Regions from separate parts of the Homo sapiens genome. Here region 1 is linked to region 2. The links come from fine-mapping of genetic effects on gene expression. Tissue or cell type: cerebral cortex. Region 2 holds a variant in brackets; the other region holds the start of a gene. All regions are shown on one strand. Distances are between the middles of the regions.

What was found. PIP is the estimated chance that this variant, and not a neighbour inherited with it, causes the effect.
Region 1: PRRX1 starts here. The variant in region 2 is fine-mapped to the expression of PRRX1 in cerebral cortex (GTEx, PIP above 0.99).

What each region holds. Positions count from the first base shown.
Region 1 is chr1:170,661,046-170,666,447 of GRCh38, reverse strand. PRRX1 (paired related homeobox 1) reads right to left here and starts at 2,317. Exons shown (of 4, transcript NM_022716.4): 1 at 1,989-2,317. The coding sequence starts at 2,229. RefSeq lists enhancers at 824-1,684, 2,885-3,412.
Region 2 is chr1:169,807,439-169,815,634 of GRCh38, reverse strand. FIRRM (FIGNL1 interacting regulator of recombination and mitosis) reads right to left here. Exons shown (of 25, transcript NM_001320047.2): 9 at 7,706-7,844. Among named protein-coding and RNA genes, the nearest start is that of FIRRM, 16 kb to the right of the region's middle. The variant T/CT (reference allele first, on the strand shown) is at 3,860.

The DNA of each region.
Region 1 (5,402 bases), 850 kb before region 2:
TCCCTACTTTTTTTTTTTTTTTTTTTTTTTGAGACGGAGTCTCACTCTGTCATCCAGACTGGAGTGCAGTGGCACTATCTGGGCTCACTGCAACCTCTGCTTCCCGGGTTTAAGCGATTCTCCTGCCTCAGCCTGCTGAGTAACCGGGATTACAGGCGCTCGGCACTACGCCCGGCTAATTTTTGTATTTTTAGGAGAGAGGGGTTTCACCACGTTGGTTAGGCTGGTCTCGAACTCCTGACCTCGTGATCTGCCCGCCTCGGCCTCCCAAAGTGCTAGGATTACAGGCGTGAGCCACCGCGCCTGGACTCTCCCTACATTTTTCGTTTTTCATTTTCCCTGGTAAAACGTTTAAAAACAATCATAGTATTTCTCAGTGCATTTTGTTAGAACTAAGAGTGCCTATGCAAACACTTAAGTAATGCTGCGGGTGCAGCCTCTCAAGCACCCAAACCCTAAAGAGAACGTCTCTGTCTCTGCGCCTAGCCCTTTATGCGGAACTTGAGGACACCTGGTTCTTCATTCCTCAGAGTTGGCCACCTTTCTCTGGTGTCCAGGCCAGACTTCCTCATTCAGTTCCTGTAGCAGTCTGCTAATGCATTGGGTGGATCGGCCCTAGGCCGCTTTTGGCTAAAAACACCCAGGGGCGCCCAGGCCGGAACTAAGGAAGCAGGGTGAAGACCAGGCGTCTTGAGCACACCAGAGGCTCTCTCTGCGGCTTGCTGTAGCGTGGCCCGCGGGGCCACCACTGTGCCCGGACCCTGTTTCCAATTGTTTCTATGTGCAGTTTGATTTGTATGTCTATTCTTTGAGAGTCTGAAATAGGCAACGTTTTGTGAAAATCATAGAATGCTGGAGGGCCCCCCGGTTCCACGATTTCCAAATTTGAAGACAAAAATGGTAACCAGCAACTACTGACATAGAAAGCAACCAGCCTCATTTGAGAACTTACAGCTAAGTTCAGACTCTTGCAACCTCGAGGAGAAGAGGGAGTATCTGTACATATCTGGCCACATGTCACCTGGGATGAACAGGGTGACCGGTCTGTTACAGACTTGGGGGCATGGGGATACAATTGCAGTCTCTTTTTAAGGCACTAGCGAAGCGAGATTTTCATGGGTCGCGAGGTTGGTCGGTGAGGATGGGGAAGGGAAACTGGACTTTTCTGGGCGTTTAAGAGCCAATAGGGAGAGCTCCTCTAAGGTGACACTGGCCTCCGCACTGAAGCTCGCGCCTCCCGGATGCAGCTCGCCTGTGCGGGATCATGCGGGGCTGGATTTCAGGTTTCACCCTTAAAGGACATTCCCTTTGCTTGGCCCGAGTTTTCCCAAGCCAGCCGGGCTTTTGACTCTGCCAGTCTCAAACCCATTTGCGGTAGAGGCAACAGCAGGGGGCAGAGAGCAGCTCCAGCGTCTGGGGCCGGGCGTTCTCTCGGGGCCTCCCGGTCGCGCCCGGCCTTACGGTGCCCGCGTGGAGAGTGCAGCCTGAGCAGCGCCAAGTCCTGCTCCCTGTGCCTGGTGCCCTCCCTCAAGCCGTCATACGCTGCCCGAGAGAAGCCCTTCCAACCCGACTCAGCATCTTTAACCTGCTGCTTTCCCAAACAGCGCTGGCTCTCTGAGTTTGCACCCCGCTAAGACCTTTTCCCAGCCCAGCCCCGCCGCCCCGCGTGCGGGATGAACCGAGCCGGTGCCTAGCCGAAGTAAAGAGAGTCCGCCGCGGACAGAGTCCCTGCCTGAGACCGCAGGGCCTCGGAGTGTCCCCGGACCTTGGAGCCTCTCTCCAGCGTCCTCCTTGGCTATGCCCTCGGCCGAGACCCGCTTTTCTCATCTGGTTTCCCCTGTGACTGGCCCTTCCTTTGAAGTCTGCCATCACCTCTCCTGGTCCCAGGACCTTGTCTTTCTGGCCGCGGACGGGCTCTAGCTGCCCTACACGGGTCCCCGCCCTCTGTCCCGGGCACACACCCCCGTGGGCATGCGCCCCTCACTCACTGTCCTGCTGCGGGGTGTCGCTGCCGCTGGTGAGTCCCGGCGACTCCAGCAGGCTCCGGCCAGCCTCGCCCACGTTCTCATCCGCCTGTGCCGCCACCATGTCCCCGGCTTCCTCCAGGTCTAGCAGGTGACTGACGGAGAAGTTCTTTTTCGCCTGCAGGGTGTCGAGGTTGCCCGGGCTGTCCAAGCGGCCGCCCAGCGCCGGTTGCCGCTCCAGAACGTGCCCGTAGCTGGAGGTCATGGTCTCCCCCACCGATCCCACCCACCCCCCTCTTCCCGCTCGAATCAACACCAAACGCTGTGGGCGCGAGGGGGGAGAGGAGCCGAGTGGGGAAGAAAGAGGGGGGTAGTGGAGAGAGAGAGAGAGAGAGGGAGGAAGAGGGAGGGAAGGAGAGGAAGGCCAAAAAAAAAAAATTGGAAAAGAGGGTGGGGGACCCCCTTCTGTAGAGCAGAGCGTTGTGCACCAGCCGCCTTCCGCAGCATTGGTTGATTTCCTGAGGCCAAGTCCGGCGCGGTCCAAAGAGATAATCCACAGTAAAATACAATATTAAAAAGTCACCCTATGTTCAAGTCAGGAGAAAAAAATCCCTTCCAACTCTCCAAAAGTGTCCACACGCACAGACTAAAAATAATAACAAGGGGGAGAGAGGAAAGCGGAGGCCAGCAGGGCGGGGGAGTTAGGCAAACAGAAGAAGAGAGAAGAAGGGGTGGGAGAGAAGAATCAAAGTGAATGGTTTTTTTAAAGGTTAAAAAAGTTATTCCCAGGCAAGAGTTCAAGCACCAACAGAAGAAGGCTTGTTCCAGCTTTAAAACATCTTCAAGAAAACGTGTTCCCCCCTCTCTGCACTCCTGTGGATTCTCAGGAGTGACTAAAGTTTCAGGAGGAGAGGGTGATGTCTTGCAGATGTATTAGAGAGCAGGATTCTCACTTTACTTTTTGTAAAGAGTAAAAAAAAAAATTAAGAATTAAAAAAAAAAGGCTTCAAGAGTCCGACGGAGGGTGCTGGTGGGTTCCCCCCTTTCCCCTTCTCTCTCTCCCCCTCTTCTTGCTGGGCTCCTTTTTCCTTCTCAGTTGGATCAAGAAGCTCTCTGGCACTTCAAAAGGCACAAACTGGCATGCAGAGGAGGCTTTGTAGGGAATACAAGAAAATTGGAGACCCCTGGGAGGGCAGATCTCGACTTAATAGGAGCCTGTAATTACGTGGCAAAGCCTTTGTGCTGTGCCTGACGTTTCACAGACCCCCTTTCTCCATCACAATCTCCTTCTTCCTCCTTTCCCTGGGACCAAAAAACAGTCTGATTAAGAAAACCCCCTTTGCCAACATCAGAGTTAGAGAGAAAGGGAGAGGGAGGGAACAAGAGAGAGGGAGGGAGAGAGGGAGGGAGGGAGGGAGGAAGGGAGAGAGAGAGAGAGAGAAAGAGAGAAGAGAAATGAGAGAGGGAAGAGAGCAAGAGAGCCCCTTTGGATTTCTAAAGGTCTAATTATCATTCCCCTGCAATAATATCACGGGGAGAAAAGACAAACTGAAACTCACAGTCACTTCAAACGTGCTGATTATTTTGCTTCGGCATTAACTCCTCCAGATTTGTTTAAGATCCTGTTGGAAAATCTCATTTGCATGTTTTGATAACAGCTGTGGGGAAATTTGGAAAAAATCCACCACCATCACAATCAAATTTTCTTCTCCTTCTGCCTTCCCCCAAACCGCCCCCCCCCAAAAAAAAATTTTCTGCTGTTCTAACAGTTTGGGGCGGAGTACAGGGAGAAAGTAAGCATATTAAGGCTATTTTTGGTTCCGTAGAGGGAGCCTATTAAATAATGTAATAAAAATAACAAAAGGGATGATAATAGGAAGTTCTCTCACGCCTCTCGCAAGGACTAAAGGCAGGTTGGGGAGATCCAGAGGGCACCGAGTTTATTTGAGGCTTTCCCCGCCATTAGGCATACCAGGACTAGGGCAATGAGAAAAGTACGTGTTTATTAAACTGGAAGAAAGGACTCCAAATATATATTATAATCTTTCTCCCTACCCCCGCCAATTTTGTAACTTCTACGGTAAGGCCAAAGTTGCTTCCCCAGGCGAGGACGCTAAACCCAGAGGGTCCCGCTGCCCAGATTCCTTGAAGCAGGCAGGAGCACTCCCAGAGGCAGGAGTTGGGGAGGCTTCCGTGCGGTTCTGCGTCCAGCCTGGCTGTGGTGGCAGGAGGACAGAGAGGGGCGGAGGAACCCCCATCTAAGTCTACGGATAATCCTCTGTCGTCCGTCTGCGGAGCCCTAACCTGACAGAAGACAGAGAGGTGCTGAGCAGTTTTTTCATGACCTGTTGGAATTTGGTAACAGCTTTAACAGTCTCATTAGAAATGAGTTACTGTATGACGACTCAGTAAAATATTAAGTGCTTATTTGTGGCGTTTTATGTTCTTTAAACGCGCACTCACACACACACACACGCATCCGTACTCCCGCACTCCCTTGATTGCTAGACTTTTTTTTTTTTTCGTCCTATAGTCAAGAGGCTCGACTGGAGAGAAAGAAGGGTACGAGTGTGTGTAAATGGTTTCTGGGCTCCAAACGGCCATAGTTAGCCCAGAACTTCCAGCCCTGATCTGGGAAAAGAACATTTGATGCCATCAAAGGGCTGTAGATTGAAACCAGATGTGCTCGCCTCGGTTCTTTCCATGCATTTAATTAAGGAACTGGGATGGAGGAGACTTTTTCATCATTAGTCCACCCACTCCCCCCTCCTCTCGGCGGTCTTTCGCCCTCCCCCCACTCTCCCCGCCCCCACCCCCATCCCTTGGCCGCTCGAACCCCCGACCGGGAGCCCAGAGCCCTGCCAGCGCCGCACTGTGCGCCGCGCAAGTCGCTCGATCTCCCCAGCGGTACCGGCTCTAAGCAGTAAACATCTGTGCGCTTCTGAGCCAGGGACGCGCGTGGGGGGTGGGCGTGCACGCGGGTGGGCCAGCGCAGAGTGGGAGCTTGTGGGTGCTTTCCGTCGGGATTTCCAACTCAGCTGCCTCCGAGAGCCTAAGCTGAGCGCCGCACGTGCTCGTGCCATCTGCTGTACTGGACGCAGTCTAATAGCGCAGAGAGGTTTCCATCCGGCATCCAGTTCGATGTGGGCCGTTTTTCCCTTCCCAGCGGTCTGTCCTTGGAGCTGATCAGTCTCCCCAAAACCTCCCTAGAAATAGAGCAGCTCCTCGCCTCTCCCTCCTTTCGCACTCTCTATCCTCATTTACACAGTTGCGTTTTAACGTTGCTGTTTTTCCCCTACACATACCCAATTGCCCGTCGTGACAAAGGTGTGGGTAAGGGCTGGGGACTTTTGGCACCCCCAAGACACGATGTTCCCCCTAAAGATCCAGCGTCCTCAGTCATTTAGGGGGTCAGCGTCCTCAGATCGCCCTTTCGAG
Region 2 (8,196 bases):
ACCCACCAAATCTAAGATGGTGACAAAAGTGACTTCTGGTTGTCCTCACTGCTCACTATACACTAATTATAATGCATTAGCATGATAAAAGATACTCCCATCAGTTCCATCACAGTTTACAAATACCCTGGCAACAACCAGAAGTTACCCTATATGATCTACAAAGGGGAGAAACCCTTAGTTCTGGGAATTGCCCACCCCTTTCCCAGAAAGGGAATAATCTACCCCTTGTTTAGCATATAAATCAGGAAATGGCCATAAAAGTGGCCAACCAGGAGACTTAGGGGTTGCTCCACCTATGGAGTAACCATTCTTTATTCTTTTCTTTTTTTTTTTTTTGAGACAGAGTCTTGCTCTGTCACCCAGGCTGGAGTGCAGTGGCGCGATCTCGGCTCACTGCAACCTCCACCTCCTGGGTTCAAGAGATTCTCCTGCCTCAGCCTCCGGAGTAGCTGGGATTACAGGCACCCACCACTGTGCCCAGCTAATTTTTGTATTTTTAGTAGAGATGGGGTTTTACCACGTTGGCCAGGCTGGTCTCCAACTCCTGACCTCATGATCTACCCACCTCTGCCTCCCAAAGTGCTGGGATTACAGGCGTGAGCCACCGCGCCTGGCCTTATTCCTTTACTTTCTTAATAAACTTGCTTTCGCTTTACAAAAAAAAAAACAAAACTTTTTTTATATAGTGAAAACTGAAATGTACCAAGTGTGCATCATGTGGAGAACACCTAAATACAGTTGACCTTTGAACAACATGGGGTCTAGGGGTGCCAACCCCCATGTGGTCTAAAATCCGAGGATAACTTTTGAGTCTCCCAAAACTTAACTACTAATAGCCTACCACTGACTATAAGCCTTACTAATAAAAAGAGCTGATTAACATATTTTGTATATGTATTAACACTGTCTATTTACAAGAAGAATCATCTATCTGAAATGGCAGGTAATTGCAGTTGCAGACCTCAATTTACAATATGTATCAAGGAATTCTCGGGAGCACTTCCAGGATCACTAGTGGCACTTCTTATGGGTTTCCATATTGCATTAAAGATGATGAAAAAATATGGAGGCACCTCAAGCAATAACTTTTTACTGAGAAAAGCAATTTACTTACTGGAGAGACAAACTGCTCACGTGGGGATGGTTAGTATCACATGGCCTTGCAACACTTTTCACAGTAACAGCAACAGGAAGTGGCTATGAAATTATTGTATACTGAATATATAGAAAATAATGGCAAAAACTGCAATTACTTTGGCACAACCTAATAGTACTACAATATGTACCACAGTTAATTTTATGCAGTTATGATTTAATACTGCATATTTACCTTTGTTTACATTTCTCTCAACTGCATGGTACCATGTATGGTCTCTGTGTGCTAAGTTTTGATAAATTTTAACCTTTGATAATAGATTTGTATTATTTTATGGTAATAAATGACAATTTAAAAAAGTCTGCATAAGTTGACCTGTGCAGTTCAGACCTGCATTGTTCAAGGGTCAACTATAAATTTATAGTATAATCACATAAGAATCAGGTACATATATCTTCATGGACACAGAAAGCCCTAAGGATAAACTGTTAAGTAAAAAATCAAATTGTAAACAACTTGTATAATGTAAAATTAATTACAAAAATTGAGTCATTCTTGTCATACCCAACTAAAACAGAGTCAACAGGCCTAGGGGAAAAGCACTCAGGGCACAAAACATTTCTCCCAAAATGTAATTCTCTGTAGGCCTGGCTGCTGAAACTGCCTGCTGTAACCGGAAACCAGTTTTATCTAAGGGCTACTGAAAGAAACTAGTGCAACTCTAAGACCAGTGTTACCCACTGCCATCACTCACCAATCAGAGCTTGACAGCTCCCCAAATCTAGTGCCAATGGACTTTCTTGAAGAGCTATATGTAATATGTCTCCTTTTTTATAAGACCGCTAACCTTCTCCTTTTTCTGTGGACATACCGAACAATTGGTCTGCATGAATGCTCCAAAGTGCAATTACTTCCTCCCAAATAAAACGTTCTGTTTTCAGAGATTTGTCTATTGACTCTAATGATAACACAATCCTATCATTATTTTTAAATGTGTTAAACCACCCCCAAAATAAATCAAAACCTTTCCTGTGATTCTTTCTAGTAGACGAAAATAGGATTTAACCTTCCATGTTAGATACTTGTGTAATATGTGTGAGTTTTCTGATTACGTATTACATTTGTAAATTGATAAAACAGTGGGTAGTGCCAATAATATGCAGGGAGGGCTATAGATTCATCTGCCTGGATTTAAGTCCTGGTCCTACTACAACTACTATATGATCTGGGGAAAGTTATTAAACCTTTCTGTGGCCCAGTTTTCTCATCTATAATGAGGCTAATACAGGATTATTGTGAGATTTAAACAGTGTCTGACGTTTAAGCAACTTAGCTCAATAAATATTGGTTGTTCCACCACCCAAGTTTATAATACACACTATAATCCAAACAGCTTTAAATAGTGCCATAAAATTAAGTCAAATAAATTACTGTCTTTAATTTGTGAATTATTTCATATGAAAATAACATATCTTAACTTATATGTTGATTGGCTATGTTTCTTTTCCAATATAGCAAAATCTTCATTAAACCAAATCAAAACAGAGTTGGATGGTTCGCTAATGGAATATGATCCCTCATTTTGACCCTTATTAAAAATATTTGAAAATAGTCCATTTTCCTCAGCAGAAATAGGGTAGATGAAAATTCACCTTTCTTTGATCATTTTTTTTTTTTTTGAGATGGAGTCTCACTCTGTTGCCCAGGCTGGAGTGCAGTGGCATGACCTCGGCTTACTTCAACCTCCACCTCCTGGGTTCAAGTGATCCTCCTGCCTCAGCCTCCCAAGTAGCTGGCATTACAGGTGCGCACCATCACTCCTGGCTAATTTTTGTATTTTTAGTAGAGACGGGGTTTCACCATGTTGGCCAGCCTGGTCTCGAACTCCTAGCTCAAGCAATCTGCCCACCTCGGCCTCCCAAAGTGCTGGGATTACAGCCATGGGTCACCACACTCAGCCTTTTCGATTATTTTGAAGATGAACTCTCTAATACAGTGCTATGCAAATTTAAAAGCACAAAGTTTATTCTACACTGACCTTATAATCAGCATAGACGTCATCATATCACCATAAGAAACCTTTCCTGACTTCATCACTGGGTACCTATCTTGTACTCCCATGAGCCAGCCAATACCCAGTCCTCCAAAGATCATACCATTCTATAATAATTACCTACTTACTTGTGTCTCAGGCTAGACTCTAAGTTGTTGAGGGCACCTACAACATTTCCTGGCACAGAATAAGTACTCTGGAAATACTTGTTAAATGACTGAATGAGTGGTGACACACAACTTATTTGTTTGCTTACTTTAAATTTTCTCTCTCATTCAAGAGGAAATTACACAAGATTTGTTCGAAGCCTCTAGCTTTACTTCATTACTAAATAGCATACTACTAATTAAACCTAGAGTTTTATTTTTACATTTTCAAAAAGCAGGTAAATAACACAAATAACTTAACAGTCCCATCTTTGATTTACTCAACTGTTTAAAACAAAGTTTGCATCTTAATGCCAACAAAGAAGGTGTGGGTAATATAAGCAAGGAAGACCATTTTTCAATGCTTTAAAATATGAGCACCATTCTTTCTTTCTTTCTTTGTTTCTATCTATCTAGACAGGCTCTCACTCTGTTGTCCAAGCTCTATCTATCTATCTATCTATCTAATCTATCTATCTATTATCTATTTAGATAATCTATTATCTATTTAGATAGATAATCTGTCTATTATCTATTTAGATAATCTGTCTATTATCTATT[T/CT]AGATAATCTGTCTATTATCTATTTAGATAATCTGTCTATTATCTATTTAGATAATCTGTCTATTATCTATTTAGATAATCTGTCTATTATCTATTTAGATTATCTATCTATCTATCTATCTAGACAAGCTCTCACTCTGTTGTCCAAGCTGGAGTACAGTGGCCTGATCATGGCTCACTGCAGCCTCAATCTCCTGGGCTCAATGCATCCTCCCACCCCAGTCTCCCAAGTAACTAGAACTACAGGTATGTGCCATGAGGCCTGGAGAATTTTTTTATTTTTTGTAGAGATGGGGGTCTCCCTGTGTTGCTCAGTCTGGTCTCAAACTCCTGGGCTCAAGCAATCCTTCTGCCTTGGCCTCTCAAAAGTGCTGAGATTACAGGCACATTCTTTCTTTAATAAAACAATTAAAATACTAATAAAATTTAAATATAGCAGGCAATAAAATCTAAGTGTAGGCAACAGATACAATAGTATATGTTTATTTTCTGAATAATACAAATTTCTAAAAGCATTATATAAACATAAGTAGGAATTAGAGTGGAAATTAAATTAGTTCTAAGGGCCACACAAATAAATTTCCCTGTTTATAGAAAAACTAAATAATTGGGGGCAGGCCGGGCGCGGTGGCTCACGCCTGTAATCCCAGCACTTTGGGAGGCCGAGGCGGGTGGATCATGAGGTCAGGAGATCGAGACCATCCTGGCTAACAAGGTGAAACCCCGTCTCTACTAAAAATACAAAAAAATTAGCCGGGCGCGGTGGCAGGCGCCTGTAGTCCCAGCTACTCGGGAGGCTGAGGCAGGGGAATGGCGTGAACCCGGGAAGCGGAGCTTGCAGTGAGCCGAGATTGCGCCACTGCAGTCCGCAGTCCGGCCTGGGCGACAGAGCGAGACTCCGTCTCAAAAAAAAAAAAAAAAAAAAAAAAAAAAAAAAAAAATTGGGGGCTAAAGAACTATATGTTAAAACTATACATTAAAAACTCTAATAGAATATTCTCTTTTTGAAACCAATTTCAAGACTTAATTGAGAATAAATATCGATTTTAGGGGTTGTTATGGGTTGAACTGTGTCCCTCCCAAAAAGCTTTAAGTTCTAACTCCCAATACTTCAGAATGTGGCCTTATTTGGAAATAGGGTTATTGAAGACATAATTAGTTAAGATGAGGTCATATTAAAGTAAGGTATGCCCTTAATCACTATCACTGGTGTTCTTATAAAAAGATGATGTGAAGACACAGAAAGCCAAAGTAAGCTAAGGATTGCCAGTGACACCGAGAAGCTAAGAGAAAGATATGAAATATATTCTCCCCTAAAGCCTTCCAGAGAACATGGCCCTATTGACACACTGTGAACTTCTGCCTCTAGAAATGTGAGAGAATAAAATTCTATTGTTTTAAGCCACCTAGTTTGTGGTAACTTGTTACGGCAACCCCAGGAAATTAATACAAGGAATGATACATCACATGCTTCTATAAATAGTGTAATATTAATTAAATCTACTGGTTTTATTTTGACTTTTTTCCAAGTGAGATGATATGGCTTGAAGATTGGTGTCCTCCCAGACACCTAACACCCAATGTGATACTATTAAGAGGTGGGGCCTTTGGGGAAGTGATTAAGTCATGAGGGCTCTGCCCTCATGAATGACATAAGTGCCCTTATAAAAGAGGTTGAAGGGAGCTGTCTTGCCCCTTGCACTAAGTGAGGATGCAGCAACAAGGGGCCATTTTTGAAGCAGACGGCACACCCTCGTTAGACACCAAATCTACTGGTGCCTTGATATTGGGCTTCCCAGCTTCCAGAACTGTGAGAGATAAATTTCTAATATTTATAATCCCTTACCCAGTTTAAGGGATTTTGTTATAGCAGCCTAAATGGACTAAAACACAAAGTGAAAACTGCCAGGAAAACTTCAATACTTTACTTTGATTGGTAAATAAATATTAATAGTGAACAGCAGAGGGCGTCGCTGATCAGAATTTGGAGTTAAGATTGAAGAAATTATACAGTCCACCTCAAAGCTCCATTTCAGGCAATGGACAGTAAGCAGAACTGGTCACATTTATCAGTCCCAAATTTGAAAAAATGAGAATTTTCTTGGACAGTTAAGAGAATTTAAATTTTCTGATTTCCATCTATAAGCAGTTTATATAAACTGAAGATATACTTTATGTACAGCCACCCTGGCTAAGCAGCCCCCATACTCTCTCTTGCCACTATAGACTATACTGTTGTTTAGACTTTCTTCATCTTACTCTTGGTCCAAGTATCTCTGTTTAATTTTCCTCTCCAAGTACTAGCTGCAAACTCTGTGGTGTCAAGAGAAGCAAGAAGGAAACTGAAAAAGGAGGAGGTTGGTGTTGAGAATATGAATCTATAGGATAAAGGTAAAGAAGAAAACAACCTTCCTGCCATTGATATAGGATACCCAAACAAACTTCTCCTTTTAGCAAGGTAAGAGGAATCAGAAAGGATGCACGAATGAAGTGAGGACAAAAAAGGAAAGGGAAAAAGGAAGAAGGGATACAAGGGGAGGGGCAGGTGAGATAAAGAAGAGAAGCAAGAAGAAAAAAGTTAGCCCCTTCCTAACACTACTCCTCATTTCCTTCTTACTACCTTCAGAACTTCTTTTTAAAGTTCCACCCTCCCCTAGGGTCTGTCCTTCCAGATCAGCCCTGCCCTAGGAGTTGCTACCAGTTTTAGGACTTGGATGAACCCCTACACTTTCACCCCCATAGCTGACTGGCAGGGAAGAGCGCAGGTACAAAGGAATTCCCTGTATCAGCTTGCAGATGTACAATAGAAGGGGCTATGTCATTGCTATTCAAGGAAGAAATATTCAATTCATGGTCCCATTAAAATTATTACATATAGGCTGGGCGCGGTGGCTCACACCTGTAATCCCAGCACTTTGGGAGGCCAAGGCGGGTGGACCACCTGAGGTCAGGAGTTCGAGACCAGCCTGGCCAACATGGCGAAACCCCGTCTCTACTAAAAAAATTAGCCAGGCGTGGTGGCAGGCGCCTATAATCCCAGCTACTCAGGAGGCTAAGGCAGAACGATCCCTTGAACCCGTGAGGCAGAGGCTGCAGTGAGCCAAGGTCATACCACTGCACTCCAGCTTGGGTGACAGAGTGAGACGCCATCTCAAAAAAAAAAAAAACAAATGACATATAACTGTTAGGTCCTGAGTACTATTAATCTTATAATTTAGGACTACTATAGTTAAATAAAATTGAGGGCTAGTCTGAAAGCAAAAGGTACTATGTATAACAGTGTTACAGGAAAATGAGTTATAATTCCCAATAATCGTACTACAAATTTTTAGAATATAATGTTTCATAAATGGGATACCAATTCAACACTCTAACTTTTCAAAATAAAAACAAATGTATGACTATATCAAATTTAAAAGACTGATACATACATATACATGCACAAACATACTTGTATCCCTAAAGGTCGCAATGCGTTGGTGAAGAAAAAATGCAAGATTGATTGCAGCTATATCAGATCTTATACAAATATGAACAAAAGAATTTTTGTTCTCATGCAGAAAAGAATGAAAGGATTCTGAGAAGAATGCTGTGACCAACCAGTTACCAAGCAAAGAGGGAGCCAGGCAGACCCCAGAGGCAATGACAGCAGTTAGGAATCTAATACAATGCTCTGGGTGAAAAGTAATTATGGGATATAAATAATCCCACAGATCAAAAAAAAACACCCAAATGAAATAAATTAAAATCCTCTTAAATAGACTGACCCAGACATTCAAATGAGATTTACTAACTGCCAAAGAAAATAAGAGTTGCTGTTTAAAATGCTATTAGCCCAAATTTTACCTGTGCATCTGACTGTGTCATCTGCTCAGCTAACTGTAAACAAGAATGGAAGGAGAAAAGAATGTCTTCACACAAGCTAGTAATTATATCTTTGTGTTTCAACTGGCTTTTTATTATGGACTGGTGCTTAAGGCTCTGCCTAAATGAATAAAAAGAAAAGAATACAATCACCACAAGTAACACATCAAGTAACTTAGGACCTCTAACAATATCTACCTTGTAGAACATTTAAAAAAACAATCAAAAAGCATCATATATCACATAATATAACTAAGATGTGCCCAGTTTACCTCTGAAGCAGTTATATTTGTTTAAATAAGTTGCTAATTTTTTCTCTGTGTAAAATATTAATTGAATTCTTACTATGTATGAGGCATTCTACCAGGCCCTGGAGACAAAGGGGTCAAACAAATGGACACAATCTCCGCCTTACCTGCATGAAACTTGTGGTCTAGCATGAGAGAGAATGTTAAATAATTTTAAGAATAATT